4 linked regions of the Homo sapiens genome follow. The protein of the gene in region 2 purifies or fractionates together with the protein of the main gene of each other region. This does not show direct contact. Each region holds a gene or a part of one and is shown on either strand. Other genes may lie near its edges.

Region 1 (8,246 bases), on a different chromosome or scaffold from region 2:
CTAGCAGTGGTATGTGTAATATATTTCGAGAAACACTGCACTAACACCTACTGTTTACATACTATCAAAAACCCCAGTTCTGCCACTAATTAGTTGTGCCACTATGGACATTTCACTTTCTCTTTCTGGGTTTTTTTCTTTAATTTAGGATAAGTTATCTACCATCTCTAAAATCTCTCCCTGCTTTAAAATTTTGTTATTTAAACTCTAAAGTACAATCTGTCTTGCTCTACAGAATGTACATCTCTCTCTTTTATGAACATTGTATGGCGTAGAGGAATTCAGAACTACAAAACATTCATGTCCTGTCATTTTACCTCTGTCCTAAATTTGCCCCTTTTTCAAGTCTCATGGGATGGTAGGTATATCTTTCTTTTCTTTTTTTCTTTTCTTTTTCTTTTCTTTTTTTTTTGAGATGGAGTCTCGCTCTGTCGCCCAGGCTGGAGTGCAGTGGAGTGATCGCAGCTCACTGCAACCTCTGCCTCCCAGGTTCAAGCGATTCTTTTGCCTCAGCCTCCCGAGTAGCTGGGACTATAGGCGCACGCCACCACACCTGGCTAATTTTTGTATTTTTAGTAGAGACGGGGTTTTACCATATTGGCCAGGCTGGTCTCAAACTCCTGACCTCATGATCCACCTGCCTCGGCCTCCCAAAGTGCTGTTTTTTTTTTTTAATTTTTAAGGGTAAATAGTAGGTGTATATATTTATGGGGTACATGAGATATTTTGATACAGGTATACAATGCATAATAAGCACCTCAGGGTAAATGAGATATCCATTGCCTTAAGCATTTATCCTTTGTGTTACAAACACTCTAATTATACTCTTTTAGTTATTTTTATTAAAAAAATTTTTATAGCCAGGACATGCTCTCATCTGAACTTCGTTATTTTTAAATGTACAATTAAATTATTATTTACTATAGTCACCCTGTTGTGCTACCAAATACTAGTTTTCATTCACTCTATTTTTTTTGTACCCTTTAACCATACTCCCCCACAAACCCTCTGCAACCCTTCCCAGCTTCTGGTAAACCATCCTTCTACTTGCTATCTCCATGAGTTCAACTGTTTTAATTTTTAGCTCCTACAAATTAGTGAGAACATTTGAAGTTTATCTTTCTGTGCCATCCTTATTTCACTTCCATCCAGTTCCACTTGATCTTCAGTTCCATCCATGTTGTTACAAATAACAGAATCTCATTTTTTTTTTTATGGCTGAAAAGCACTCCATTGTGTGTATGTGCCACATTTTCTTCATTATCTGTTGATGGACACTTAGGTTGCTTCCAAATCTTGGCTACTGAGAATAGTGCTGCGATAAACATGGGAGTGCAGATATCTCTTTGATATACTGATTTCCTTTCTTTTGGGTAAATACCCAACAGTGGGACTGCTGGATCATATAGTAGCTCTATTTTTAGTTTCTTGAGGAATCTCCAAAACTGTTCTCCATAGTGACTGCACTAATTTACATTCTCACCAACAGTGTTTTATCCAAATCCTTGCCAGCATTTGTTATTGCCTGTCTTATGGATAACAGCCATTTTAACTGGGGTGAGATGCTATCTTATTGTAGTTTTGATTTGCATTTCTCTGATAATCAATGATATTGAGCACCTTTTCATAAACCTGTTTGCCATTTTTATGTCTTCTTTGAGAAATGTCTATTCAGAGTTTTTATCCAATTCTTAATCAATTATTAGACTGCTTCCTAGAGAGTTGTTTGAACTCCTTATATATTTTGGTTATTAATCCCTTGTCAGATGGGTAGTTTGCAAATATTTTCTCCCATTCTGTGGGTTCTCTCTCCACTTTGTTGATTGTTTCCTTTGCTGTGCAGAAGCTTTTTAACTTGATGTGCTCCCATTTGTCCATTTTTGTTTTGGCTGCCTCTGTTTGTGAGGTATTACTCAGGAAATCTTTGCCCACTCTAATGTCCTAGAGAGTTTCCCCAATATTTCCTTTTAGTAGTTTCATAGTTTGAGGGCTTAGATTTAAGTCTCTAATCCATTTTGACTTGATTTTTGTATATGGTGGGAGGTAGTGGGTCTGGTTTCATTCTTCTGCATACGGGTATCAGTTTTCCCAGTATCATTTATTGAAGAGACTGTCTTTTCCCCAATGTATGTTTTTGGTACCTTTGCTGAAAATGAATTCACTGCAGACATATGGATTTGTTTCTGGGTTCTCTATTCTGTTCCTGTTTTTATGCCAGTGCCATGCTGTTTTGGTTACTATAACTCTGTTGTATAATCTGAAGTCGGGTAATGTGATGCTTCCAGTTTTGTTCTTTTTGCTCAGGATAGCTTTGGCTATTCTGGCTCTTTTGTGGTTCCATATAAATTTTAGGATCTTTTTTCTATGACTGTGAAGAATGTCACTGGTATTTTGATGGAGGTTGCATTGATACCTCTTAATTTTCTAAGGGTTTTCCTTATCTCTTAATTTTCTAAGGGTTTTCCTAAATAAGAGTACTAGTTTATTCTTGCTGCCAGGTGATGCTTGGTAAAGAAAGAAATGGCGGTGGATGGACCACCCTAACTCCATGATTCCAATCTTACTCAGCTTTCTAAGAGACTCGTAAGGAACCTGCTTCTTCTTATCCAGACACCCACTCACCACAGTCTAACCAAATCATCATTTTGCCTTTCAACCCAGAGGGACAGACAGTAATTTTACCCATCCACCCCATAACGCCAAACACACGTCATCATGCAGAATTTGGTGTCAGAACTGGAAGGGACTCTATGATCACTCAGGCTAATACCTCACTGTACATATGAGAAAACCCAGAGTACAGAAAAAGAAGCGACCAAGCAGCAGGGGCTTGACTTGGAGTCTAGTGCTCTTTCCCCAGTCTAGGCTCCCTCCTGCCATCTAACAAAATGAAGCCAATTTCTCTTACGGTTCTAGGGCCTCTCCTTCGCGTCTCTGCTGTGGCACCTTTCCTTAGCCGCCTCTCCGACTGCGAGAGCTGATCGAGAGCTGCCACCGGCCGCCGAAGCCTGGATCAGGCTCTGTCCCGACGCCTGACCGGAACCTGAAGCCAGCGGAAATCCTGAGAGAAAGTCTGAAACCCACTCAGTCCCCGAAACCTTGTGTGTCGTCACTGCTGTGCGTCGGCGGGAGCATTTTGCGAGTGTCCGGGGGCCTTCGTCACTTCCGCCCCCGCGGCAAAGCAGGGAGGTCGGAGGACTGGAGAGGTGGGGACCCTGGGGAGGTGGCTGCTCGGAGTCTAGGTGACGGGGCGAGACGGGGCCGGTAGGTGGCGGGAGGGGCCGGGCCGGAGCCGGCGGGAGGGCCAGGCCCGGAGGCCCCCACCCTGGCGTGCCTGCCCCGGCCGCGGCTGAGGAGGAGGAGGAGGAGGAGGAGGAGGAGGATGATCTCCAGATACACTCGGAAGGCGGTGCCACAGAGCTTGGAGCTGTGAGTGGACTGCTCAGCCACCCCAGCCGGGGCGGGCGGCGGGCGCTCTGGGGACCCTCCTTGACCAGTCCTTCGTTCCTTTCCTTTCCCAGGGCTGGGGAGAGATTTTTCTTCGGAATTCTCTCCTCTCAGCCCTGCTGGACCCTGCCCCTTCTTCCTCCATCTCCAGCTGAGGGCGTGTCGCCCTTCGTCTGAAATTCCTGAAATCAAGCACTGGGTCTGCTGAAGCATTTGTAGCATCCGCAGTGCTTCAGGTCCCATTGTTAATGGCCATGGTAGCTCGAGAAGTTATTAATAGCTAACTGAGGGCTCCAGGAAAGTGCTCACTTGACACTGTGCAAAGCTATTTACATACATTTGCTCATTCCTATCAATGATATCAGATTGGGAACATTATTTTGCACATTCTACAGATAAAGATCCCAGAATTAAAGATTGTAGCATGCCAAAGATCACACAGCTTGAAGGTGGTAGAGCTGAGAGGTACAAACCTGATGTCGATCTGATTCCGAAGCCTGTGGTCATAACCATCACACATACTGCCTCCCCACCTCTGCAATTAAGCACCAGAATCCATAAAGATCAGTTTTGCTTTTGAGACTTTAAAGAGCAAATATTTCTGGCTTTAAAAAGATCCACCCTCACGGCCGGCCGTGGTGGCTCACGCTTGTAATCCCAGCACTTTGGGAGGCTGAGGCGGGCGGATCACTTGAGGCCAGGAGTTCGAGACCAGCCTGGCCAACATGGCGAAACCCCATCTCTACTAAAAATGCAAAAAAAAAAAAAAAAATGGCCGGGCATGGAGGCGGGGGCCTGTAAACCCAGCTACTTGGGAGGATGAGGCAGGAGAATCACTTGAACCCGGGAGGCAGAGGTTGCAGTGAGCAGAGGTCACGCCATCGCACTCCAGTCTGGGTGACAAGAGTGAAACTCCGTCTCAAAATAAATAAATAAATAATAAAAAAATAAAAAGAGCTGCCCCCTACCCTGACCGAAGTGGTGTATAATAATTTAGAAAGTAATAATAGTGTCATACATTTATTAATGCTTTACACTTCCAAAAGGGCCTTCACTTTTTTTTTTTTTTTGGAGACAGGGTCTTGCTCAGTTGTCCAGGCTGGAGGGCAGTAGTGCAATCCTTGCTCACTGCAGCCTCCACCTATGGGCTCAGGTGATCCTCACAATGTAGCCTCTTGAGTAGCTGAGACTACAGGTGCACACCACCACAACTGGCTAATTAAAAAAAAATTTTTTTTTGGTAGAGACAGGGTCCCACTATGTTGCCCAGGCTGGTCTCAAACTCCTGGACTCAAGCGGTTCTCCCACTTTGGCCTCCCAAAGTGTTGGCGTGAGCCACCATGCCCAGCTCACTTCACTTTTTGATCTTAACAACTCTGTAAAGTGGGTATGATTATCTTCAGTCTTTCAGAAGATGAAATTATATCAGAAATGTTACATATTTTAAGATTATATAGCCAAAAAGTCAGGAGTTGAGCTTGGGCTTTAACCCCAAATTCCAATTTTTTTTCCTTCATGGAGCTATATAATTTTAGCAACCATAAATTTATTAATTAAATATTAACTTTTCCTTTCATTTAGCTATGTAATTTTAGCAACCATAAATATATTAACTATTAATATTAATTATTAACTATTTAATTTATTAAATATTAATTATGCACATACATGATAATTGCAAGCATGCTATTTTGAATCATTCTTGGGTTTCTGGCTAGGCTGTCTTCTAGCCACGTGACTTTTAGGCAAATTACTACATCACTGAGCCTTCGTTTCTGCAATATAGGAGTAACACCTTATCCAAAAGCTTATTTAAAATGATGGTGTGGACCCCCACACCTGTAATCCTAGCACTTTGGGAGGCCAAGGTGGGCGATTGCCTGAGCTCAGGAGTTCAAAACCAGCCTGGGCAACATGGTGAAACCCTGTCTCTACTAAAAATGCAAAAAATTAGCTGGGCATGGTGGCACATGCCTGTAATCTCAGCTACTTGGGAGGCCGAGGCATGAGAATTGCTTGAACCTGGGAGGCGGAGGTTGCCGTGAGCCGAGATCACACCACTGTACTCCAGCCTGGGTGACAGAGGAAGACTCTGTCTCAAATAAATAAATAAATAAATAAAAATAAGAATAAAGTGATGGTGTGGAGCTTGACACATATACATCCTCAATAAATGGTATTTTCCTTGTCCCTTCGCACTTTTACTTGGGATACAATAGGCATACAAAGAAAATAAGTCTAAAACCTCTCTTTGCCTTTTAGAAGCTTATTATTTATTAAGGAATAAGATATCTACATGGTAGCAGTTTAGTTCCTAGTAAACTCTTTGGGAACTAGGAAGAAGAAACAGTCATCTCTTAGATTTGGGATGTGTTGTTCCTACTTAAAAAAAAAATTGTGAGGAAACTGTCTTTTCCCAATAAAGTGACTGAGGTTTAGCTAAAAATCTGCTTTTATGATTAATTCCAACCATTCTGAAAGTTAAAAAAAATCTTGTATGGAAAAAAATGATAGGCACTTGTTGGGCCAGAATTATTATTAACTAGTATAGTTGTATCAGTTTTCTTTCTATTTTTTTTTTTTTTGAGACGGAGTCTCTGTTGCACAGGTTGGAGTGCAGTGGTGCCATCTTGGCTCAGTTGCAACCTCCACCTCCTAGGTTCAAGTGATTCTTCCACCTCAGCTTCCCAAGTCACAGGACTACATGCCCAGCTAATTTTTGTATTTTTAGTAGAGATGGGGTTTCACCCCAGGCTGGTCTTGAACTCCTGGACTCTGTCTGCCTCGGTCTCCCAAAGTGCTGGGATTATAGATGTGAGCCACCGCGCCTGGCCTACTTGTTCTTGATTGTTGATTTGATACTCCCTATAAGGCCCAAAAGATGATTCTGTAGCTGGAGTCAGGATGAAGTGAATAATGAAGATAATGAAGATAAAATGTATCTTAATGGGAGCAAATTCAAAGCAATTTTTACTTTAGATGTTATAATAATGATAACCTGCTTTGAAGCCGTAACTTTAGTTTTCTACCTAGCCATTAAAAATTATAATTGTTGAAAAGAGTATGGGAAAGGAATGATTTTCAACATACAGCTTAACATTTTTTAATGAAAAATTTCAAACATAAACATATAGAGAATAGTATCATGCACTACCTGTCACCCCACATTCAACAGTTAACAAAGTTAATATATTTGCTTCATCTATCTTCCTTATCCTTTTCTTTCTTTTTTTTTTTTTTTTGAGACAGAGTCTCACTCTGTCGCCCAGGCTGGAGTGTAGTAGTGCCATCTCGGCTCACTGCAAGCTCCGCCTCCCAGGTTCACGCCATTCTTCTGCCTCAGCCTCCCGAGTAGCTGGGACTACAGGTGCCCGCCACCATGCCCAGCTAATTTTTTGTATTTTTAGTAGAGACGGGGTTTCACCGTGTTAACCAGGATGGTCTCGATCTCCTGACCTCGTGATCTGCCTGCCTCAGCCTCCCAAAGTGCTGGGATTACAGGCGTGAGCCACCGCACCTGGCCTCCTTATCCTTTTATTAACTTCTCTGCACCTCTCTGTGAAATAACGAAAGCAAAACTGCAGATACTGCCATTTCACCCCTATATATGTCATTATGCATCTCTAAAAATTATGGACATTTTTGTATGTAGTCATAGTGCCATTATTAAATTTAATGATATTTTTTGTTATCTAATTGTCAATTCATAGATTTCCCTGGCAGACTAAAAAATGTCTTAAGTCTCTATTTCATAGCTTGAATTTGTATTTCTTATCCTTTCCACTTTTTCAAAGACAAGCTCTTGGTTGTAGGACCACTGAATGAGAGACATACAGGTAAGTCTGCACAAATTGATCTCCACAATTTGAGAAATAATTTAAAGTGCAAGCTCCACTGACTGGGCTCTTAGCTTTATCTTTATATAGAACAATGGTACAATTCACTAAAATCTCAAACTCTTCATTTCCTTCTAGAGGCCTTCCTCTGAGAGCCAGATTACTAGGATTTGAATCTTGGCTTCATCGCTTACTAACCAAATGACCTTAAGCAGGTTACTTAATCCCTCTGTGCCTTAGTTTCCTTTGAAATGAGAGTATTTGAGATTTATGATAAACATTTGCATATTAAAGACCTGGAAGATCTCTTGTAAAGAAATCTGTGTAACTTTGTTCAACCTATTACAGTTCCTGAATGTATTTGACTACAGAGTTTTGTGAGGAAAGTCTACCGCAGATTACTAGGAACATATATTGATTGACCCCATAGATTACTGGAACATATAATGATTGACCCCATAGCTTAATCCAGTGCATACATTGGAGTCTCTAGAGCAGCAATATTCAATACAAATATGATATAAGCCACATATGTAATTTAAAATTTTCAGGTGGTCACATTAAAAAAGAAAGGTGAAATTGGCCGAGTGCAGTGGCTCATGTCTTGAATCCCAGTACTTTGGGAGGCTGAGGTAGGAGGATCATTTGAGGCCAGGAGTTAGAGACAGCCTGAGCAACATAACAAGATCCCAATCTCTACAAAAAAAAAAAAAATTAAAGATTAAATAATTAGCCAAGTGTGGTGGTGAGTACCTGTAGTCTCAGATACACAGGAGGCTGAGACAGAAGAATCCCTTGAGCCCAGGAGGTCAAGGCTGCAGTGAGCTATGACCACACCACTGTACTCCAGCTTGGACAACACAGCAAGACCCCATCTCAAAAAATAAAATAAAAGTGAAATTTTTTTACCTTTTTATTTTGAAATAATTATAGACTCACAGGAAGTTGTAAAAATAGTACCAA
Region 2 (8,353 bases):
GCACATACCACCATTCCCAGCTGTTTTTTTGTTTTGTTTTGTTTTGTTTAATTTTTGTCGAAATGGGGTTTCGCCATGTTGCCCAGGATGGTTTTTTTGTTTGTTTGTTTGTTTGTTTCTTTTGAAACAGAGTCTCGCTCTTGTCGCCCAGGCTGTAGTACAGTGGCATGATTTCTGCTCACCGCAACCTCCACCTCCTGGGCTCAAGCGATTCTCCTGCCTCAGTCTCCCAAGTAGCTGGGATTACAGGATTCAGAATCCGTCTCAAAAAATACATAGATAGATATATAGATAGATAGATATCCTGGTTGTGATACTGCACTATAGTTTTGTAGTATGTTAACACTGGAGGAAACTGGGGAAAGAGTACACAGGATCTCTCTGTATTATTTCTTTTTTTTTTATTATTTTTTATTTTTTGAGATGGGGGTCTCCCTGTGTTGCCCAGGCTGGAGTGCAATGGTGCCATCTTGGCTCACTGAAACTTCCGCCTCCCAGGCTCAAGCCAACCAACCGCCTCACCCTCCTGAGTAGCTGGGACCACAGATATGCACCACCATACCAGCTAATTTTTTGTATTTTCAGTAAAGACATGATTTCATCATGTTGCTCAGGCTGGTCTTGAACTCTTGAGCTCAAGTGATTCTCCTGCCTTGGCCTTCCAAAGTGCTGGGATTACAGATGTGAGCCACTGCACCAGACCTGTATTATTTCTTATAACTGAATGTGAATCTACGAAAACTTCAAAATAAAATGTTTAATTTTTAAAAACTGAATCACAAAGTGAGAGCTATTTTTTCTACAAATTTTCTTCAATCCTTGTCATTATCTCAACCAAAGTCTCAGTTTTCAGCACTGCTGAGAAAGGCAGTCATACATCATGGACCCTAGATATGCAAGTTAAGTATGCCAAGAATGCAAGGTTCTGACCACTGTTCACTCCAGCCATTTCTCAGGATTGTGTTTGCAGCGAACAACAACCTTGAGGAATGAGATAATGTCTCCTTCCAGGACAAAGAGCAGATGTATTTACTGTCTTCTATGAAAGAGGTGGATTCTCCAAGCTCAAGTAGTCTTTAGCCACGATGCCAACCCACTGAATGTGCAGCATTCTTCTAGGACCCTCAGCGTAATACCTGTAGGGTTGACAAGCAAGAGCAAGCCACACAAACATGATGCTCATGCTGCTTGCTGTGCTATGTGTAGTCTTATCTTTGACCCAGGAGTCTCATGTCTTCGGTCAGCTACCGTGAAACAGTTAACAGGCTACAATGTATTAGTTTATAAACAGTGTAAAATTAAATACTGACAGACACCTCTCTAACACTAATCTCCCTTTTTAAAATAATAACCATTTGGCTCAGAGCCTACAACAGGCAATACTGTCTGATAACATTGTTTTGTTTTTATAATATTTATCTTTACAGTTACCTTACCAGTGGCAACTGTCACAGAATTATAAAGCTTCCTTAAAAAAATGATACAACAGTCCTGGCTCCGTGGCTCAGGCCTGTAATCCTAGCACTTTGGGAGCCCGACGCAGGCAGATTGCCTAAGGTCAGGAGTTCAAGACCAGCCTGGCCAACGTGGTGAAAACCCATCTCTACGAAAAATACAAAAAATAAGCCAGGTGTGGTAGCGCATGCCTGTAATCCCAGCTACCCAGGAGGCTGAGGCAGGAGAATTGCTGGAACCCAGGAGGTGGAGGCTACAGTGAGCCAAGATTGCACCAGTGCACTCCAGCCTGGCTGACAGAGTGAGACTCTGTCTCAAAATAAATAAATAAATAAATAAATAATTGAGACATACATATATACATACCTCCTTTCACAGACAGGACCCATTAACTGAAACTCTTTTTCACAGGGAATCCTGGTATCTATCCTCACTCCCAACAAAAGAAATCTTAACAGCAGTCTGATTTCCCATGCATCCAATGTCTCCCCATGACAATATGAGGAAACATTGTTCTTTTGATTTTTTTTTTTTTTAAGAAATGAGGTCTCACTATGTTGCCCAGGCTGTTCCTTTACTACCAGGCTTAAGAGATTCTCTCGCCTCAGACTCCCAAAGTCCTGGGATTACAGGCATGGGCCACCACACCCAGCCAAAGTTGTTAATGAAAGCATGGCTTTACAGAAAGCTTCTTTAGGCAGAATGAATGTTTTAAAGTTTAAGAATAGGATCTGCTGACAGCTTAAGAAATAACTAAATTTGTGTGGAAATATCTCGGCAAAACAGCTTCAAGTTTCCCTGGTAGAATAAAGCCCACCCTTCTGGAAATCCCACGAACCTTCTTCTGTGCCTATCTCAGGTCAATATTCTCTACAATGCTCTGCCAAGAAATATATACTTTATCTTATTACCCTTATTATACTATAAGCCTCTGGAAGACAAGGACCTTATGATTTATCTCTGTAGCTCAGAGCGAGCATACAACAGTCCCTGTCAAAAAATAAAAATAAAAAAGGCTGTTCAATATTCCCTTATTTCTGTTTATGGCAGTTTAGTCTTCAAGATGGACACTTCACATTAAGTCCTGTGAGCCTCACAACAAACATAGTGTGTTATACTATGTTATATAGGTTATACAATTATGTTATTATAGTTCAATTTTACAGGTGAGTAATCGAGGATAACTGACTTGCCTTCCGTCACTCTGCTACTAAGGTGTAGAGACAGGTTTCGATCTCATTGCTTTTGAAGATTTACACGCGGTCCCCCGTGATTCCGGAATATCCCTCTTCCTACAGGCGACATCGGCACCGCCTCCCCCCGGGACTGCGCGACCCCATCAGGAAAGCCCTTTGGCTTCGCACAAGTAACAGGCACGACAGGCTCCCGAGCCGCTAGGGTCTGCGTAGGCTCGGCAGGCGCAACGAATGGAGGCGACCAAAGCCAGGCCTCGACCCAAATCCTCGGGGGCCAGGGTGGGGCGGGAGCCCACCTGCTCAAAGCCGGCTCCTCGTCGCTAGGCTCTTCAACCGCGTAGGGGTCGTAGTCATCCGGAAGCCGGTTCATGGTGGCCTGCAGCGGCCTACACCGTCCACAAGCAATTTGCAGCGTCTCTGTTTACACTGCAAGTCCAGTCCCTAAAGCGCCCCTGACGCCACTTCCGCCTGAACGTCCCAGTCCCCCTTGCGCGCCCGCGCAGACCGACAGCACCGAGGGAGGCAGGTAGAAGGCGGGGAAGGGGCGGAGCAGGAGCGAAAAGGGGCGGGGACGGGACGGGGGCGGGTCTTAATCCCACCATTTTTGTTTTGTTTTGTTTTTTGGAGACGGAGTTTCGCTCTTGTTGCCCAGGCTGGAGTGCAATGGCGCGATCTCGGCTCACCGCAACCTCCGCCTCCCAGGTTCAAGCAATTCTCCTACCGCAGCCTCCCGAGTAGCTGGGATTACAGGCATACACCACCACGCCCGGCTAATTTTGTATTTTTAGTAGAGACGGGGGTTTCTCCATGTTGAGGCTGGTCTCGAACTCCGGACCTCAGGTGATCCGCCCACCTCGACCTTCCAAAATGCTGGGATTACAGGCGTGAGCCACCGCTCCCGGCCAATCCCACCATTTTCTTCCGCAGCTTCTGCTTACAGGAAAATAGCAGCTACCTTGTCACCAAAAATAATAATGATGGGCACCCTCATAAGTGACAGTCTCTGAGGTGAACATGCTACATGCAGCGTCTCATCACCTACGAAGCAGGAATCTAGACGCTGAGGGACACACAGCCCGAAATCCAATAAGTCCTCAGACACCAGCACCCACATCCCTCCAACCTCGCCTCTAACCCTTATGCCTTCCACACCATGAGGCTCTCAACCTCTCCTTCACACTGTTCACTCCTCAGTCTGACTGCGGCCTCAACAATCTACGAAAAGTTATCTTTTCTCGTCATCTTCCCAGTCCCCACTTTTGCTCAGCCCTCAACTGATCCCACTCGATACCTGAGGAGAACAGGCAGATGACAGCCACTTGAGCTCCATCGGGAGACTGTTTCTAACCCTGTTTCTGAACCAGGAACTCGGGTTCCTGCCTCCTACCGAGACACTGTGGCACTCTCTAAAATGTGGAGTAGCTGTAATAAATCTACTCCTGTATTATGCTTTACAGTGCAGGTCTTAGTTTTTCTTTTTTCTCATTTCTTTTGAAATGGCATCTCGAACAAAGTCCACCAATCCCTTTACAAAAGAATGAACTGCTCCTCTGTGTGTACTTCATAGAAGGTGGAATCGGACAGAAGCAGGTTAGTGACAGTTATTCCTGAAATACAGGAGCAGAGTACAGTCTGTTGTGGTTTCCCGGATTCCGCGCCTAGCTCAGCCAATTAAGCATGAGACATAGGCCATTGAGCCACTTAGTAGTTATGCGAGTGGATAGATTGGTATGTAGAGGGAAAGAGGTCTGCTGTAAAGAACAACACTTGTTTGTCTGTGGGGAAAGAAAAGCAGAATACTTGAGATGAAAGTTGGCATACAAATAGGATACTATCGCCAGTAGTTATATTACAAACATTATCGGCCTTTCTAGTGTGAATGAACATTAGACACATTATTGTCATTCCTAGTTTAAAGTTAAGGTTGCGTGGTTGGATTTTTCCACTATCTTTTTCTAATTTTTCTACCATTTGGAGACCGTAGGCATTTGGGCCTGTCACCCCTTGGATGGGTTCCTAGTTTGTTTACATTTTCCTGAACCCTCCTGAGCGCCCGTTCTTGGTCTAATCCCCAGTCGTGATGATTCCACACTTCCTCAGCCGCATGTTGTCTTGCCTCATTCATGAGCTGGTCAGCGTTTCGTCTCTTTAACTGACATGTTCCCCAGTGCTGTTTGAACTGTTGAGTTTCCGTTGCTGGCTGAGTGCGTTTTGTCCTTCACGTAACCTTCGCTGGTAAAAATAAGCCCATGTGATGTCCACCAGTGGATGAATGCTGGACCGAGAGCCCTAGCTTCTGGATCCAGGTCTAGGCCCTTCATCTGCTGCTCTGTGGCCCAGGGCAGGTTTGCTTGACCTCTGCCTCAGTTCTCGACTCTAAAGGACATACTGACCTACCTCACAGGGGTGTTGTGAGGATTAATAAATGTTGGTACTCTGCTTTGGAAATGTGAAAATGCTGTGTAAATGTTAAGAAATACTAAGTATAGGGCCAGAAGCTATACAGTGTTTCACTTAACCGTTTGCCATTCTGTATTTACCAAGGTGGTCTTTTCTGGGGAAGGAAGTAGAGTGGAAGGTGCATCCCTTGGCCCCTGGTTTACATTATTAGGGTGCTTATTGTAGGAATGCACTCTAAAAAGTGGGCGTAGAATGAAAGCAGCCGTCCAGTGGTCCTCCCTTTTCTGTAGTTTCACTTTTCTTGCTTCAAGTTACAGCAGTCACCTGAAATCTGAAAATACTAAATGAAAAACTCCAGAAACAATTTATGTCTTAAATGTTGTGCTGTTCTGAGTAGCGTGATGAAATCTGTTGCCGTCCTACCTGGAACATTGAGTCATGCCTCTGTCCAGTGTGTCCATGCTGTATACACTGTCCACCCATCAACCAACCACTAAGTAGCTGTCTTGGTTGTCAACATAACAGATCACAAGAAGATTGAGGTTGGGTGTGGTGGCTTACCCCTGTAATCCCAGCACTGTGGGGGTCCAAAGTGGGAAGATTGCTTGAGCCCAGGAGTTCAAGACCAGCCTGGGCAACTAAGCGAGATCCTATCTCTCGAAAAAATTTTAAAACAACTTTTTGGCTGGGCGTGGTGGCTCACGCCTGTGATCCCAGCACCTTGGGAGGCCAAGGCGGGCGGATCACGAGGTCAGGAGATCAAGACCGTCCTGGCTAACACGGTGAAACCCCGTCTCTACTAAAAATACAAAAAATTAGCCAGGCGCAGTGGCGGGCACCTGTAGTCCCAGCTACTCGGGAGGCTGAGGCAGGAGGATGGCGTGAACCCGGGAGGTGGAGCTTGCAGTGAGCTGAGATTGCGCCACTGCACTCCAACCTGGACGACAGAGCGAGACTCCGGCTCAAAAAAAAAAAAAGAATTAGCTGGGCGTGGTGGCGGGTGCGTGTAATCCCAGCTACTCGGGAGGCTGAGGCAGGAGAATCACTTGAACCTGGGAGGCAGAGGCTGTAGTGAGCCAAGATCGCGCCATTGCATTCCAGGCTGGGCAACAAGAGCGAAACTCTGTCTCTAAATAAATAAAATAAAATAAAATAAAATAAAATAAAATAAAATAAAAAATGGCATGTAATATAAAAATGAGGGGAGAACCCTTTTAGGCAGGATTTAACTTTGGCTACAGGTAACTAAAACAATGAGCAGCTTAGACAGGACTTATTTTTCTCACCTACCCAGAATTTAAGGGGTAGCAGTTTGGGGCTGTTGGCCAGGCTATTCACCAGGCGGCCCCTCCTCCGTCTGCTCTACCATGCCAGGTGTAAGGTCTCCCGGCCATGATTGTTGCTTCCAGGTACCAAGGCGGCCGCTACACTCCAGGCCTGAGTCTGACTTCCAGGTAGAAAAAGGGGGTAGGGACAAAGACTTTCTTCAAAAAGTGGCTTGGCCTTTTTATTCTCCTGGAGATGCCCTTTCCGGGGACGTGTGTCTAACTGGCCAGAACTGTGTTGTGTGATGAGGAAGTTGAGCTGTTTTAGCTGGGTGTGTTGATCCTGTGGACAAAATCAGGGTCTGTTAGTAAGACAGGAGTGGCCACTGCAGGATACCCTGCCAACAGCACAGAACGAGTCTGGACCTGAGAAACAGTAAAACTGACCTGTGATTAGAGGTTTCGTTTGTTGTTGTTGTTGTTTGTTTTTTATGTGTTTTTTTTGGTTCTTGTTTTGTTTTTTGTTTTTTGTGACGGAGTCTCACTCTGTCGTCCAGGCTGGAGTGCAATGTCGCGATCTCGGCTCATTACAACCTCCGCCTCCTGGGTTCAAGTTTTTCTCCCGCCTCAGCCTCCGGAGTAGCTGGGATTACAGGAACCCGCCATCATGCCCAGCTAATTTTTGTATTTTTTAGTAGAGACGGGGTTTCACCATGTTGGCCAGGCTGGTCTTGAGCTCCTGACCTCAGGTTATCCGCCCGCCTTGGCCTCCCAAAGTGCTGGGATTACAGGCGTCAGCCACCGCGCCCGGCCCAGAATTTTTTTTTTTTTAATTATTTTACATGAGAGGCCGGGTGCGGTGGCTCACACCTGTAATCCCAGCACTTTGGGAGGCCGAGGAGGGCAAATCACGAGGTCAGGAGATGGAGACCATCCTGGCCAATATGGTGAAACCCCCGTCTCTACTGAAAACACAAAAATTAGCCAGGCGTGGTGGCGAGCACCTGTAGTCCCAGCTACTTGGGAGGCTGAGGCGGGAGAATCACTTGAACCCGGGAGACGGAGGTTGCAGTGAGCCGAGATTGCGCCACCGCTCTCCAGCCTGCTGACAGAGTGAGACGCCGTCTCAAAAAAAAAAAATACATATATATATGTGTGTGTGTGTGTGTGTGTGTGTGTGTGTGTGTGTGTGTGTATAAAACATTAGAAGAAAATCAAATGAGTCCAGAGAGTTTGTTGTGGCCCTAGGACTTGTAACAGGACACGTAAATTCTGGGGCTGAGGCTGCCATTGTGGGGTGGCCTTTGGGGGTTCTATGCGCTATGCGCTGATGCTGAGCAAGCAAAGAGAAGCAAGAGTTTGGAGCAAACAGAGAGAAGCAGGGAGGCTTTCCGTGACCCCCTTGTCTAATATGTTAAGCCCTCAACCCCAGCCTTTTCTCTCCATGCCCTCTTCTCTATCCCTTGGTCCACGTTTTTCCCCCTTCTGCTTCGTATTATTGCTTGTCTGCTCACTGTCCGTCTCCCCGTTCCGTTTCTCTATTGCTTCACGAAAAGACCACCCTCAAAACGTAAGGGCTTTGCAACAACAGTGATCATTCATTTGTATCCCAAGTCCGCAGTTTTGATGTTCTGCTCCCTGATGCCTAGGGTCTCGGCTGGGGACTGAAACCGTTTCCATGCATTTCTCTCCACAAAGCCTCGGGCTTCCTCACGACACGGCAGCCTGCGTAGTCAGCCTTCTTCCATGGCGGCGCAAACCTCCAAGACGATTCCGGTAGACCCAGATGGGAGCTGTAAGGATGCCTCCGACCCAGCCTCGGGAGACCCTGGACATCACTTCTGCCACATGCCGTTGTGCAAGGTAGTCACTAAGGCCAAACCAGATCCAAGGAGAGGGGAATTGGACTCTACTTCTCGATGGGAGAAGTAGTAAAGATAAGAAACTTCTCAGGCTACTGTCCAAAAAAATCGGCTGGGCGCGGTTGCTCTCACGCCTGTAACCCTAGCACTTTGGGAGGCCGAGGCGGGCGGATCA
Region 3 (7,495 bases), on a different chromosome or scaffold from region 2:
GCTACTTGGGAGGCTGAGGTAGGAGGATATGAGCCTGGGAGGCAACGGTTGCTGTAAGCCAAGATCACACCACTGCACTCCAGCCTAGACAATAGAGCGAGACTCCATCTCAAAAAATAAATAAATAAATAAATAATAAATACATAAAAATCAGAGATTCAGCCAGGTGCAGTGGTTCACGCCTGTAATCCCAGCACTTTGGGAGGCCAAGGCAGGCAGATCAGTTGAGATCGGGAGTTTGAGACCAGCCTGGCCAACATGGTGAAACCTCATCTCTACTAAAAATGTAAAAATTAAGGACAGGCACACTGGCTCACGCCTGTAATTCCAACACTTTGGGAGGCTGAGGCAGGCAGATCACTTGAGGTCAGGAGTTAGAGACCAGCCTGACCAACATTGAGACCCCGTCTCTACTAAAAATACAAAAAAATTAGCCGGGCATGGTGACGGGCACCTATAATCCCAGCTACTTGGGAGGCTGAGGGAGGAGAATCACTTGAACCTGGGAGGAGGAGGTTGCAGTGAGCCGAGATTGCGCCATTGCACTCCAGCCTGGGCAACAAGAGCGAAACTCCGTCTCAAAAAACAAAACAAAACAAAAAACCAAAAATTAGCTAGAAGTGGTGGCACACGCCTGTAATCCCCAGCTACTCAGGAGGATGAAGCAGGAGAATCACCTGAACCTGGGAGGCAAAAGTTGTAGTGAGCTGAGATCGTGCCACTGCACTCCAGCCTGGGTGACAGAGTGAGACTCTGCCTCAAAAAAATAAATAAAATAAATCAGAGACTCCAGGATAGCAAAGTTCTCCAGGTCTTTGCCAGCAACATATACTTCTTCGATATCATGATCCAATTATTCCCTAATATCCAACAAAGAATAAAGAAGAAAGCTTCTGATTATAGACGTAAAACAAAAATCAAACATTCATTTGCCACTTTCACCTTTCCTACCCAGACAAACCCACTCCAGCTGGTGCTAGCTGACCTCACCTGTCAATTTTGGGAAGTGTGGTGATCCAGACCAGCAGAGGGATGAGGAAGGCTGCTGTCTTGCCACTGCCAGTCTCAGCCACACCAATGATGTCACGATTCTGTAGCCCAATGGGAATTGCCTGACGCTGTATAGGTGTTGGTTCCTGCAGTGACCCCAAGAAAGAGTAATAGGTACAGGGAGAGTTATACCACCTGGGCAACCACTGATAGTAGTAAGCACATCTGCTAGCACAATGGAAGGATGCCAAGTACAGTTCACAGAAATAGGGACCCCAAGAAGAAACCTAATCACTAAAAGCCAACACTTCTACCAGAAAGTGACAGAAAAGGTCACATTGGTGCCCACTAGCAGCGATGGCTCCAAATAGTCAAGGAACAAAGTTCTCTATTCCCAAACTAGTGTAGGAACATGTCAGATCTCTTGGGCCAATCTATCCCTCCTTACCTTGTAGCCACACTTATCAATGACCTCCAAGATGTGTGGGGGCAGAGAAGAGTCTTTCCAGGATCGGATGGGATTGGGGATCTTGCCACCTTTGGTGGTGATGCTGTAGTCCTCACGGAAGATCCGCCAGTCCCTGTCCGTCATCTCATCTAACTTTTTCTGAGACCAATGACGATCATCCCAGCGCTGCTTGGCTTCCTTCTTACGAAGTTTGCGGAGTCTTGCCCTGGAGCAGGGTGTGAGGAGTAAGTAGAATCAGTGCCCTCCAACTCCTTTCTGTAGAGCCTCTGGGCTCTGTCCAGCCACCCTAGCCTTGATCACTCACTCCTCCTGCTCCTTTTCTTCCAGGGTTCGCCTCTTCTCCATTAGGTCTCCATAGAAACGTGACTGCTCTCGCTTCTGCTGCTTGAGGTCAATGCCTGCAATGAAGCCTCGCCCTAACAACTGCACCTGGTGCCGTTCTTTGTACCTGGGATTGAGATAGAGGAAAAGAAAAAAGAAGGAGCTGTTAACGGCAGTAGGAAGGAAGGGCAGACTACTAGTATGAAACAGTTCTTCCCAGACAGGGTCTTTCTTCCACCAGAGGGCTGGCTGACTACCAGTCTACCAATTTTCCATCCCAGCTTATCTTACTTCCTCCACCTCCGTAGTCATCAGCTCTCTAGGACTGCCTAGTGGAAAAGACCTAGAACTCAGGCCTGAAGCCACTCACAGGGGGTTGTAGTCAATGGATGTGTCCTCAGATGCATCCCACTCAAAAACAAATTTCCGGTCATTGAGATGTCTCGTTCGGCGCCGCTTTTTGATGCCACCCAGGTAACGCTCCTACCCAGGGACAGAACACAAAGCACATGAGCTTTGAGGCCCAATTCTCACATGCAGAGATCACAATGGCCAAATAACTAAACCTCATTTTTGTGTGGGAGAGAAGTGAAGATGGAGCCAAGGCCTGCACCTTAATGGCATGCAGTTCCTTGCTCTTATCCTTCTCTTCCCGGATCTTCTGCCGCCCTTCCTCATCCTCATTTCCATTGGTCTCCCGTTCCATCCTCTCCCTGCGTTCCCGACGTTCCCGTTCCTGAGGATCTTCTGCAGACCAAAGAAAGCAAAGCTGCAGAAGAGCTCATGGAAGAAAAGAGGAGAGGGAATGGAGGGAATCCAGACGAGGAACCCCAAATGAAGAAAAAAAGGGGTAGACTTATGATATGGGGTAAATGGAGATCTAACAGAAAAATGTTTTCTCATAAACTCCCACCATCCTTCCCCTTTCCAAACTCCAGAGTGAACAGGTTTCTATCTCTCCTAAGAGACACTGTATCTCATCCCACTCTTTCCTCTTCCATCTAGGGGCTACACAGGGTAGAATAACAAACCCAACATCTTCCTGCCCAAGTCTTGGAACTGTTTCCTTTTCTTCCTCTCTTCTTCAAGCATCCTCTGCCGCTCTTCCACCTCCTGCTGCCGTCGCTTTAGAGCTTCAGCCTCTCGTTCTGCTTTAGAGAGGAACTTGGGCTACAAAAGAGATTGGAACTGTCAACAAAGGATCTGGGAGCAGGGTACAATCACATCACTGATGGGGAGATGGCAGGGAACCCAAAAGTATTTGCTCAGGCATTAAGCCTGTTGAGGAAAACACAAATAGGCCTTGGACTCGGTTATGGACTGAACTATGTCCCCTACAGAATTCATATGTTTTTTCAGGCTGGACGTGGTGGCACATGCCTGTAATCCCAGTGTTTTATGAGACCTAGATGGGAGGACCGCTTGAGGCCATGAGTTCAAGACCAGCCTGGGCAACATAGCAGACCTTGTTTCTACAAAAATAAAAAAACTCAGCCAGACATGATGGCATGTGCATATAGTCCCAGCTACTCAGGAGGCTGAGGCAGGAAAATCATATGAGCCCAGGAGTTTGAGGTTACAGTGAGCTGTGATTGCACCACTGTACTTTAGCCTGGGCAAACGAGCAAGACCTTACCTTTAAAAAAAAAAAAAAAATGTGGCCGAGTGCGGTGGCTTGTGCCTGTAATCCTAGCACTTTGGGAGGCCGAGATGGGCGGATCACGAGGTCAGGAGTTCAAGACAAGCCTGGCCAGCACAGTGAAACCCTATCTCTACTAAAAAAATACAAAAAATTAGCCAGGCATGGTGGCACGTGCCTGTAATCCCAGCTACTCAGGAGGCTGAGGCAGGAGAATTGCTTGAACCTGGGAGGCAGAGGTTGCAGTGAGCCGAGATCATGCCACTGCACTCCAGCCTGGGCAACGGGGCGAGACTCCATCTCAAACAAACAAACAAACAATGCATGTGTTATATATATTTTTTGAGACAGACTCTCGCTCTGTTGCCCAAGCTGCAGTACAGTGGTGTCATCATGGCTCACTGCAGCTTCAACCTCCTGGGCTCAAGCAATATCCTTGCCTCAGCCTCCTGAGTAGCTGGGACTACAGGCGCATGCTACCACAGATGGCTAATTTTTAAAATTTTATAGAGATGGGTTTTCACCATGTTGCCTAGGCTGGTCTAAAAATCCCTGGCTCAAGTGATCCTCCCATCTTGGCCTTCCAAAGTATTGGGATTACAGGTGTGAGCCACTGTACCCAGCTCAAAATTCCTATGTGGAAGCCCTAACTCCTAGTACCTCAGAATTTGACTATATGTGGAGACAGGACATGTAAAGAGGTGATTAAGTTAAAATGAGCCCATTAGGCTGGGCACAGTGGCTCACGCCTGTAATCCCAGCACTTTGTGAGGCCAAGGAGGGCAGATCACTTGAGCCCAGGGGTTCGAGACCAGCCTGGACAACGTGGTGAAATCTGGACTCTACAAAAAATACAAAAATTAGCTGGACGTTGTGGCACGCACCTGTAGTCCCAGATACTTGGGAGGCTGAGGTGGGAGGATTGCTTCAGCCTGGGAGGTGGAGGTTGAAGTGAGCCGATATCATGCCACTGTACTCCATCCTGGGCGACAGAGTGAGACTCTGTCTCAAAAAAAAAAAAAAAAAAAAAAAAAAGGGCCTTTTAGGGTGAGCCCTAATCCAACACAAGGGGTACATGTGTACAGAGGGAGGACCATGTGAAGAGCTGAGGAAGAAGACAGCCTTATAAGCCAAGGAGAGAGACCTCAGAAGAAATAACCCTGCTGACACTCCGCTCTCAGACTTCCAGCCTCCAGAACTGTGAGAAAATTAACTTCTGTCGTTGAAGTCACCCAGTCTGTGGTATTGTGTTATGGCAGCCTGAGCCGATGAATGAAGACCCTCAAGTACTTACCTTAGCCTCAGCTTCTTCCTCAGCCTTTTTCTTGGCCAGAAGCTCCTCCAGGGATAATGGCTGGGCCTGAAGATAAAACAGAACTTTAGTCTATAAAGGCTCTCTCCCTTTAAAGATCAACAAAGCAACGCACGAGTTGAAGATGAAAAATATCCTTCCTCTCCTTTACCTTAGGCTTCTTATCACCATGTTCATCCTCTTCATCCTTCTTAGAGTCTCTGTCCTTCCGAGATTTAAAGTCTTTTCCTCGACCAGGAGATAAGCTTTGAGGAAAAGGAACAAGGTCCACATCACTCTTACTTCAGTGCCTGGATGAGGTTCAAGTTGAGCCCCGAAAAGAGAATGGAAGTTTCCCCATGACTCAACAAGACTGGCCCATGGTCATCTATCATGTCTTGAAACTCTCTTAGCAGGCATGGTCATTCTGCCAGCTCTGAAACCTAATTATGGCCCTGTCTTGGCCCCTTTCTACCCAAATCTCCTTTTGAGACTAATCTCTTTTGGGAAGTGGGACTTTACTACTGATGTCAAAAATATTTCCCCTAGGCCAGGCGCGGTGTCTCATGCCTATAATCCCAGCACTTTGGGAGGCTAAGACAGGTGGGTTACCTGAGGTCAGGAGTTCAAGACCAGCCTGGCCAACATGGCAAAACCCTGTCTCTAGTAAAAACACAAAAATTAGCCAGGTGTGGTTGTTTAGAGAAAAATTTTTTTTTTTTTTTTTTTTGAGACACAGTCTCACTCTGTCGCCCAGGCTGGAGTGCAATGGTGTGATCTCAGCTCACTGCAACCTCCGCCTCCTGGGTTCAAGAAATTTTCCTGCCTCAGCCTCCTGAGTAGCTGGGACTACAGGCGAGTACTGCCACCACTGGCTAATTTTTATATTTTTAGTAGAGACGAGGTTTCATCATGTTGGCCAGGCTGGTCTCGAACTCTTGACCTCAGGTGATACATCCACCTCGGCCACCCAAAGTGCTAGGATTACAGGTGTGAGCCACAGCGCCTGGCCCTCCTTAACTCTTTAATATACAATGAATTTAGCCTACATGGCCACCACCACAAGCCAAGAAGATACTGCTATCTATATTCCCTCATCATTTTTCATTCCTATCAATCCCAACAATCCTTTCCCCATACCTGCTCTAAGCTTAATCTACAAGATAATTCAAACAACCCCACTGAGTTTCTGTTAGGAGCATTCTGTCCTCTGCCTTGAATTCTAACCTATACTTTCAGGGCCTGATAAGAACTCTGTATACAGGCCAGGCACAATGGCTCACGCCTGTAATCCCAGCACTTTGAGAGGCCGAGGTGGCCGGATCACCTAAGGTCAAGAGTTCGAGACCAGCCTGGCCAACATGGAGAAACCCTGTCTCTACTAAAAATACAAAAATTAGCCAGGCATGGTGGCGCATGCCTGTATTCCCAGCTACTTGGGAGGCTGAGGCAGGAAAATTGCCTGAACCCAAGAGGCAGAGGTTGCAGTGAGCCGAGATCGTGCCATTGCACTCCAGCCTGGGCAACAGAACAAAAACTCCATCTCAAAAAAACCCCCAAAGATTCAGAGAAGAATCCATAGATAGAAAAGCTTCAGGCTCCCTCTCCCCTCTCCCCTCTCCCCACGGTCTCCCTCTCCCTCTCTTTCCATGGTCTCCCTCTGATGCTGAGCCAAAGCTGGACCGTACTGCTGCCATCTCGGCTCACTGCAACCTCCCTGCCTGATTCTCGTGCCTCAGCCTGCCGAGTGCCTGCGATTGCAGGCGTGCGCCGCCACGCCTGACTGGTTTTCGTATTTTTTTGGTGGAGACGGGGTTTCGCTGTGTTGGCCGGGCTGGTCTCCAGCTCCTGACCGCGAGTGATCCGCCAGCCTCGGCCTCCCGAGGTGCCGGGATGGCACACGGAGTCGCGTTCACTCAGTGCTCAATGGTGCCCAGGCTGGAGTGCAGTGGCGTGATCTTGGCTCGCTACAACCTCCACCTCCCAGCTGCCTGCCTTGGCCCCCCAAAGTGCCGAGATTGCAGCCTCTGCCCGGCCGCCATCCCATCTAGGAAGTGAGGAGCGTCTCTGCCAGGCCGCCCATCGTCTGAGATGTGGGGAGCGCCTCTGCCCTGCCGCCCCGTCTGGGATGTGAGGAGCGTCTCTGCCCGGCCGCCCCGTCTGAGAAGTGAGGAGACCCTCTGCCTGACAACCGCCCCGTCTGAGAAGTGAGGAGCCCCTCCGCCCGGCAGCCACATCGTCTGAGAAGTGAGGAGCCCCTCCGCCTGGCAGCCACCCCGTCTGGGAAGTGAGGAGCGTCTCCGCCCGGCAGCCACCCCGTCCGGGAGGGAGGTGGGGGGGGTTAGCTCCCCACCCGGCCAGCCGCCCCGTCCAGGAGGGAGGTGGGGGGGTCATCCCCCCACCCGGCCAGCCGCCCATCCGGGAGGGAGGTGGGGGGGTCAGCCCCCGGCCCGGCCAGCCGCCCTGTCCGGGAGGTGAGGGGCGCCTCTGCCCGGCCGCCCCTACTGGGAAGTGAGGAGCCTCTCTGCCCAGTCAGCCGCCCCGTCCGGGAAGGAGGTGGGGGAGGTCAGCCCCCCGCCCGGCCAGCCGCCCCATCCGGGAGGGAGGTAGGGGGGTCAGCCCCCCGCCCGGCCAGCCACCCCGTCCGGGAGGAAGGTGGGGGGGTCAGCCCCCCGCCCGGCCAGCCGCCCCGTCCGGGAGGGAGGTGGGGGGGTCAGCCCCCCGCCCGGCCAGCCGCCCCGTCCAGGAGGTGAGGGGCGCCTCTGCCCGGCCGCCCCTACTGGGA
Region 4 (7,495 bases), on a different chromosome or scaffold from region 2:
TGCTTCCAAGGCTCCCGATTCTTTATGGCTCCCTATCATACCATAATATGCTGATCTGTTTTGAGGTCTACCTCCACCACCAGACTGTCAGTCACTGTGGCCACAGACCATGGTTACTAGCCCCAGATCTCCAAGCTCTAGCACCGTGGCCAGCATACAGCAGGTGCTCTGCAAACATCTGCTAAAAGAAAGATCAACATCAAAGACTGAACAAGGACAATAATAACCAGAAAGGAAAAGAAGAGACAAATGGCAGAGCTAAAACCCCTGGACCTTCTTTAGGGGCAGCCACACCAGAAGAAACAAAACAAAATAAAAAACCCTGGGCCTGGTTAAGTGAATGCAGATGGATACTGGATAAAGAAGAGAATTAACAATGACTTGGAAATTGAGTCTGGACAACTGGGGAAAATGTCAGCAGCATTCCCCACAGAAGAGAAGTGCAGAGAAAGAGCAGCTCTGGGTCCATCACTGTCTATAGGTAAGGCTGTCTTCAAGCTGGATAGAAAGCTCCAGAAAGGCTGAGACAGTATTAAAATTGCCTTCTGTTCCCTCAGAGCCTAGCATGATGCACAGCACAGAGGAGGAGCTCACCAACTATTTGTTTTCTATGAATGAGTCTCCGGACAGACCTTCCATTTTCACTTGGCAAAGATGCTCTGAACCAGAAGTAAAAGGGGAACCCAATGTGAGGCTCCGCAAGACTCAGGGATCTTGGAATACAAAAACAGCACATTAAGTCAAGAAAGAAAGGCAAGAAAGACAGGCTCCAGGACACACAGCCCACACCCTAGGGACAAATGGCTACACAGGCCTGTGCCCAGATGTTAGGTTAGAACAGGATAGCAAATAAGCAGTCACTCACAGGCCAGCTTTGGCCAATGGGGACTAGTAACAAAGAAACACCATATTTAGAGTGAGGAAAGCAGTGGGGATCTGATTACACAGGGCCTTGTGAGGAAGGCCTGTATTTTATGTTAAGTTCTACCATTAGGAGTAAACATTTGCTACACTCTGTTGCCCAGGCTGACTATAAGAAAGTCAAAAACCCTTAGGGAAAGCCACACTAACCTGTATAAAGGCGATAACATTTTCCCGAGCGACTACGACCACCACGTCCTGCTCGCTGATTAGCTGATGCCTGGGAGACTGGCACCACCACCAAGCATTCAATAGCTGTCCTGGGATTGTAGGCTCGGAGTTTCACAAAGCCACAGTCGATCACATACACAATGCCGCTGATTGTGATAGAGGTTTCTGCCACATTGGTGGCCACTATCACCTACGTTCCCCACAGAAAGAAGAATAAAACTCATTTTATTCTTTTTGCTTTTAACAAACTCGTAAAAATCCTAAAAGATTTAACATTTCCAACATTGCAGAATCTGTGAGAGGCAGTTTAATATACTAGAAAGACTGTGAGTTTCCAAGTCAGGGGGTGCCCTGGGTTTGAATTCTCCCTAATCATGTGACCCTGGACAAGTTACTCAACCTCCTGAACCTGTTTCCTCATCTACATAATAAGATTTACCACCTCCCCTAGGGCTACTGAAGGGACTATATACAATTAATATATAAAGTGATCAGAGCCTAGCATTTGTTAGTTTTTCCCTTTGGCATAACCAAAGTAAATCACCCTCCATCTTGCGCAGGTATAGTCATTTATTCATTCATATCATGATTACTTTCTGAGGGTGTGCACTTTGCCAAGCACTGTTCAAGGTGCTGGGATGTAGGATAAACAAGACAGACAAGGCCCCTGCTCTGCCAGAGTTTACATTCTAGTTTGAGTGTTTAGGGTGAAGACATGCTGAACATAAACAAGAAGATAATTTCAGAGAACAACAAATACTATAAAGAAAATATTAACACAATGAGGCAATATGATATGATGTAGTATATAACATGTATATTATATATTATTGTAATAATAGGGCATGCTACTTTACTTTTGTTGGCCAGGCAGAGCCTCTGTGAAAGATTTTGAGCAGAGACCTGAGTAACAAGCAGCAGCCAACCCTATAGAGATCCAAGAATAAGAAACAGTTCAAAGGAAGGAGAAACAGCCAGTGCAGCCAAAATACAAAGTACAAGATGAGGTTGCAGAGGGAGGCAGATATGCAATCATATGTGGTCTCTGGGCCACCATGAGGTATTTGAATTTTATTCCCAGTACATTGGGAGCTGCCCCTGAAGGGTTTAAGTAGCAGGGGACACATATATATAGCAGTTAGAACTTTTTTCAGGCACTTTACATTTTATAAATCATTTTATAAAAATTATTTTATAAATGATCATTTTATAAAATAATCTTTCTAATATTTTTATGTAGTTGGGATTAAGATGTTATGCTATAAAACCACCTATCTGAAAGTTATTATTATTTACGTTTTACAGCTGCAAAAACTCAGATTCGAGGTTAAGTCAGTTGTCCCAAGGCACATAGTAGCTCAGGGGCAGAATCCAGGTCTCCTGATTGGCTGGCTGCAATTAATGTTTGACAGGGCAGACTCATGTTGCTCCATCCCAATGGTCAAGGGGCTGAGCACCCTCTTCCAGGTGGTCTGAAATTGGGAGTGGATCCTCAGACCATCCCTCACCTGCTCTATTCTCTGCCATCTGTTGATAAATAGCTACTACAGTAAAAGCTGTCCTCGGGCTGGTTCTGTGCAGTCCTCATCTAATGAAAGGAAAAGGCAGAGTCAGGCCCAGGTGGACTGGCTGCCTGCCAGCTCCTTCAAACCAATGCTTTCCACCACACCCTTCCTCACTCTCACTTCAAGGCTAAACATTTTTAAGCCACACCTTGAATTAATTGATTTAAACTTGGCCCTTTAAAATAGGCAAGCTGATACTTAAAACAAATTATTTAGAAACCATGTGTACCAATTTTTCTATTGCTCCTGACTGACCTCAATCCCCCTAAACAATCCCTTAAGCCAAAGTAAGCATGTGTCGTGGGAAATATTAGGAAGGCAGAAGAGAAGAAAAGAGAAGTCACCTGATCTGATAACTACTGTCAAAGTGATCCTTCAGTGGGACAGGTTTAGAATCTTCACAACAGGCCGGGCACGGTGGCTGACGCCTGTAATCCCAGCACTTTGGGAGGCCAAGGTGGGCGGATCACAAGGTCAGGAGATCGAGACCATCCTGGCTAACTTAGTGAAACCCCGTCTCTACTAAAAATACAAAAAAAAATTAGCCGGGTGTGGTGGCGGGCGCCTGTAGTCCCAGCTACTCAGGAGGCTGAGGCAGGAGAATGGCGTGAACCCGGGAGGCAGAGCTTGCAGTGAGCTGAGATCGCGCCACTGCACTCCAGCCTGGGCAACAGAGCGAGACTCCATCTCAAAAAAAAAAGAAATCTTCACAATGTATTATTTATTGTGTGCTTTTAGATCTACTACACAGAAATATGGACCTAGAAGTCTGCCTTGTGTTTAGCAAGTTTCAAAACAAGTAAAGGAGCATCATTATGATTATAGACGGCTGCCAACACCCTTGGTCATCAGGATAGTCTCACCTTTCTGACACTGCGTGACACCCTTTCAAACACTTTCATTTGCTCAAAGGAAGGCAGTCCTGCATACATGGGGAGAACTCGGAGGTGTCTCTTCATCCCAGTGCGAGCTAGTGCTCGAGCCTGCTCGATGAGCATCGACACAACAGTTTCTACCTCTTCCTAAAGACGTTGAACCAGGAACCAAAGAAACCGAGATCAATTTAAAGCATGCTATTTTATCATACTGAAAGAAAATAAAAGTTGGGATCTGGACTTTAATTTTGGTCAGATTCAAGAATTTCAGTGCCGTCATGTTCCACTCTGGGATGGTATTTAATTAAATGCTAATACACAATGATGACAATGGGTGAAATTTTGCAACTACACTATTAGTTACTAAAAACTCGGTATGATCTGCAATGAATGGAAGAGTTCCCAATAAATAAAAACGATGACTATTTTACTCAGCATACATATACGGTGTCAAACAAGCATCTCATGCATATAGACAAGTTGCAGCATATAAAATCACTGTAAGCTTTCTCCAAAAAAGATTACTGAACCATGGAAAGTGTTTGGCAGTGGAAAAGATTACAGTTGGAGGGCAGGTCTGAATAGTGCTGGCCACCGTCAGCGAGCACTTGGGTCTGTTCAGTTGTTTTACCAGTAATATGGCCACTTATCACCTCCAGGATGAGCTGTAAAGGTGTCACTGGAAAAAGAGGTACACAGCAGCAACATGTGTGCAGGACATGGACCTAATGTAGTATCCAATTCTGGCAAACAAAATAGCCCTCACTCAACTACCTAGTTTATTTTGGAATCAGCTAATACATTTAAAAAAACATTTAACCCTCTGCAGACAGAACAGGCAGGGGCTAACGAGTCCCTGACAATCTAGATGGTAGATGAATGACATCAAATCAATTTTCTACACAATTATGGAACCACAAAATACAACAAAACATGAAATACATGACTGAGTAAAGTAACAAGGCTCTGTATTACTTTTGGTGCTGTCTTAACATGTCTATTCATCAGAGAAGTACAGTGGCATTACCTGGCCAGTAAGAAATGCTAAAACGTCTCCGTCTCCCTCTGTCTGGTGAATTTTCACCACAGTTTCGACAGTTGATTTGATATAATCTGGAACAGGACTGAAAAGACAAATGGGATGAATTCATCACTAGAATATGCTCATTAATTACAGATCAATTACCCTAATAATCTGGCAGCAAAGCTCATCAAAGTGAGTTTGGGCCTGCCCAGTAGGTAATTAGTACAGGATAAACAAAATAAATATTCATTTTTTTCAAATCTAATATTCAAGAATAATCCATAATTATATGTCAACTATGATTTTTAGCTTTATTTGGAAAGAAATAACATGATATACCCATACAAATAGATGTGCTATCTTTAGTATGCAAAGACATCAGACCAGTGAAAATCGGAAGCTGTGGTCCCAGTGCTGAAGCCCACGCTCTTCCCAGCCCATTTTCCCTCCTAACCAATAGCAGCATCTATGGGTCGGCTGGATGGCCCTGATGGATGAGCTCTCCAACAAAACGATTCAGAAATCAAGTCCACGACTCTGGATTTATCAGCCACTGGAACAGGCTCCTGGTCTTTTTTTGTCCAGTGACTAGTACAGGAATTAGGATGGCCCCTTCCTTGTCCAAGTAGGCTACTCCTAAAAATGCCAACTGGGCCTTCTCGCTAGGGATGTAGAGAACTGAGAGCCAAATGATTCAAATCACCAATACTGCCCCTGCTGACAGGCAGCCTTGTAAACCCCAGTTCTGAAAACTATCAAGCTTCCCTCCCCAAAACCTTTCACCACTTTTGCTCTCTCTGGCTGAGCTACTGGCCACAGACTTACGGAAACTTGCATGTCAGTGTGAACAGTTTAAACTAAATTCAGCAGTGATCCGGAGCAGGGTAAGAACATTCTAGACCAATGACTAGGGACACAAAACATGCTCCTCCCCATCCTTTAGAGTTGTGAGCAAATGCAGTTCTGACATTCTACATCAGAGGCTGAGTTTTCTAAACACCATCATCCAGAATTCAAGCATCATCAAACCTTTGTAGATAAAAGATATCCACCGGAAATGTTCTCCCTTCCACTGTAAGGATCACACATGTATCCCTTGCTGGATCACTGGTTTCATTTTGATTAAAGAAATCCCGGAATTTCTAAAAAGAAAAAAATTAATTCTTCATTTCTCTTAGAAAAAAAGGTTCGTAGCGATTCATGGAAAGAAAAAATAATATAAAACTTGCCAAAGACAGGTGAGTAGCAAGATTATATATGTGCAATACAGATTATGGGTTGCAAAATACATTTTTTAAATTCACATTTTTCTAACTGTAATTGTGGGGAATCACATTTCAATGACAGTGTCTTTACTAAAGTTTTAATAAAAATAATAAAGGTTAGATTTCAAAACTGCATTCAGCATAGCATCTGAGTTAACATGTAGCTTTAGTATTATTTATATTATTCCTATCCTCTGTATTTCATTTAAGCAAAAATTAGGTCAAAGGTGTGACTCAAGTTCAGTACAGGTTAGATGAGGTTGGTGGGTAACTCTATCTGGAAAACACAGATATGATCATTTGATAGGAAACTTTTCCTTCTGTGAACAGTAGGTGTGTTTCCGGCCCCATTGTTACTGGTTTTAGGCCACTTGATGGCAGGGATAGTGTCTTCTCCATCTTTACACGCCCTACAGTAGTGAGTGCGAGGCTTTGTATGGGGTAGGCCATCAATCATGTACTTCCCCAACACTCGTGCAGTACCCTGTTGGGAGAAGTGTCTCTTGGCAGTTTCTGCCAAACAGGTGTCCACATCCTATTTAATGGTACTTGACCACCACTTGCAGCCCACAAGGAGACCTGTCTTGAGGGCTCCAGCCAATGATGGGGGAAGGAAACGCCACCAAAGATCCTCTCTTGGGGAATGTGACCCTAAGGTACAAAGAGAAGCTGAGACTGAGAAGAGCTAAGTGACCATGCAGGCAGGCAAGTGAGCACCAGATGGGAAGCAGCTGGTGCCCACTGCAGAGGGGGCATGGATATCCCGTCGGGTGGAGTGCTCCATTATTTGAATCTGGGTGCCCTTTCCATTCCCCACCTCTACTCATTTCCCTGAGGCCTGGCTACATAACTACAAAGCTTGTCTTTATTTCCCTATGTACCTTTACAAAACATGCCCATCCTGCTCCAGGAAACCCAGGAGCCCAGGAGCTGTGCTAACGAATGGCATCAAACGCTAAGTGAAGGGGCTCTGAGGGGTACTTTTAAAAGAGTAAACTGGATTTAACCACAAAATACAGGGATGTTATATATTAACCTCAAAATTGAGAAGAATAAGCACAGACATCAAAGTGCCTCATGTCAACAAAACTATGTTTTGCTATGCAGAATTCCACACAGTACTCCTGTTCACTTTCTTTTGGGTAAATTCCCTTCAAGTTGCTTCAGCCTTCCTGCATCCCTATGACATGCACAGCACAGGTACACTAGAAGTGACATACAAACAAGTGGGAACAGACACCCCATGCCCCAAAAGAGTAAACAGTTCACAGAAGGCAGACGTGCAAAGAGTTGATCATAAAATAATCCCTGAGGCAGATGACCCTGTGACCAGGAAAGAGCTGCAGATTGCAATCTGATAGAAGGAAAAGTTAAGAACTACCGGCTTTCAGGGAGAGCTTCATGGAGAAAGCAGTATCCCTTGCCTGCACTGTAAAGGCTAAGGAGGATTATTACTGGCTGGGAAGGGGGAGACATCCCTTCCCAGGACAATAGCACAGTATGGACTAAAATGTAAAGGGGTCCCTAAGGGAGGACAGAGGCAAGGTCTAGGCCTCCTCATCTCTGAGTCAGCTCTCTCATCTGCAAAATGGACAAACTGCTATCCACCCTGCAAGGTTGCTGTGAGGTTCAAATAAACTATGTGGGATAGTTGTGACACACATCTAGCCTAGA

What was found.
Region 1: the proteins of EAPP (region 2) and ECD purify together in Homo sapiens (affinity purification with mass spectrometry; 5 studies listed by BioGRID and IntAct, with this or other methods). This does not show direct contact.
Region 3: the proteins of EAPP (region 2) and DDX23 purify together in Homo sapiens (affinity purification with mass spectrometry; 4 studies listed by BioGRID and IntAct, with this or other methods). This does not show direct contact.
Region 4: the proteins of EAPP (region 2) and DHX35 purify together in Homo sapiens (affinity purification with mass spectrometry; 3 studies listed by BioGRID and IntAct, with this or other methods). This does not show direct contact.

Annotation. Positions count from the first base shown.
Region 1 is NC_000010.11:73,164,958-73,173,203, forward strand, and holds the start of ECD (protein ecdysoneless homolog), read right to left. Parts: upstream 3,052-8,246; 5' UTR 2,909-3,051; intron 1-2,908. Other genes in the region: primary cilium assembly protein FAM149B1, read left to right, coding at 3,383-3,429. UniProt on the Homo sapiens protein: Regulator of p53/TP53 stability and function. Inhibits MDM2-mediated degradation of p53/TP53 possibly by cooperating in part with TXNIP. May be involved transcriptional regulation. In vitro has intrinsic transactivation activity enhanced by EP300.
Region 2 is NC_000014.9:34,536,608-34,544,960, forward strand, and holds the start of EAPP (E2F-associated phosphoprotein), read right to left. Parts: upstream 3,095-8,353; 5' UTR 3,022-3,094; coding exon 2,948-3,021; intron 1-2,947. UniProt on the Homo sapiens protein: May play an important role in the fine-tuning of both major E2F1 activities, the regulation of the cell-cycle and the induction of apoptosis. Promotes S-phase entry, and inhibits p14(ARP) expression.
Region 3 is NC_000012.12:48,835,131-48,842,625, forward strand, and holds part of DDX23 (probable ATP-dependent RNA helicase DDX23), read right to left. Parts: intron 4,977-7,495; coding exon 4,883-4,976; intron 4,780-4,882; coding exon 4,714-4,779; intron 2,951-4,713; coding exon 2,812-2,950; intron 2,528-2,811; coding exon 2,394-2,527; intron 2,264-2,393; coding exon 2,151-2,263; intron 1,908-2,150; coding exon 1,764-1,907; intron 1,665-1,763; coding exon 1,439-1,664; intron 1,137-1,438; coding exon 991-1,136; intron 1-990. UniProt on the Homo sapiens protein: Involved in pre-mRNA splicing and its phosphorylated form (by SRPK2) is required for spliceosomal B complex formation.
Region 4 is NC_000020.11:38,999,933-39,007,427, reverse strand, and holds part of DHX35 (probable ATP-dependent RNA helicase DHX35), read right to left. Parts: intron 5,699-7,495; coding exon 5,586-5,698; intron 4,657-5,585; coding exon 4,560-4,656; intron 3,680-4,559; coding exon 3,521-3,679; intron 1,283-3,520; coding exon 1,072-1,282; intron 1-1,071. UniProt on the Homo sapiens protein: May be involved in pre-mRNA splicing.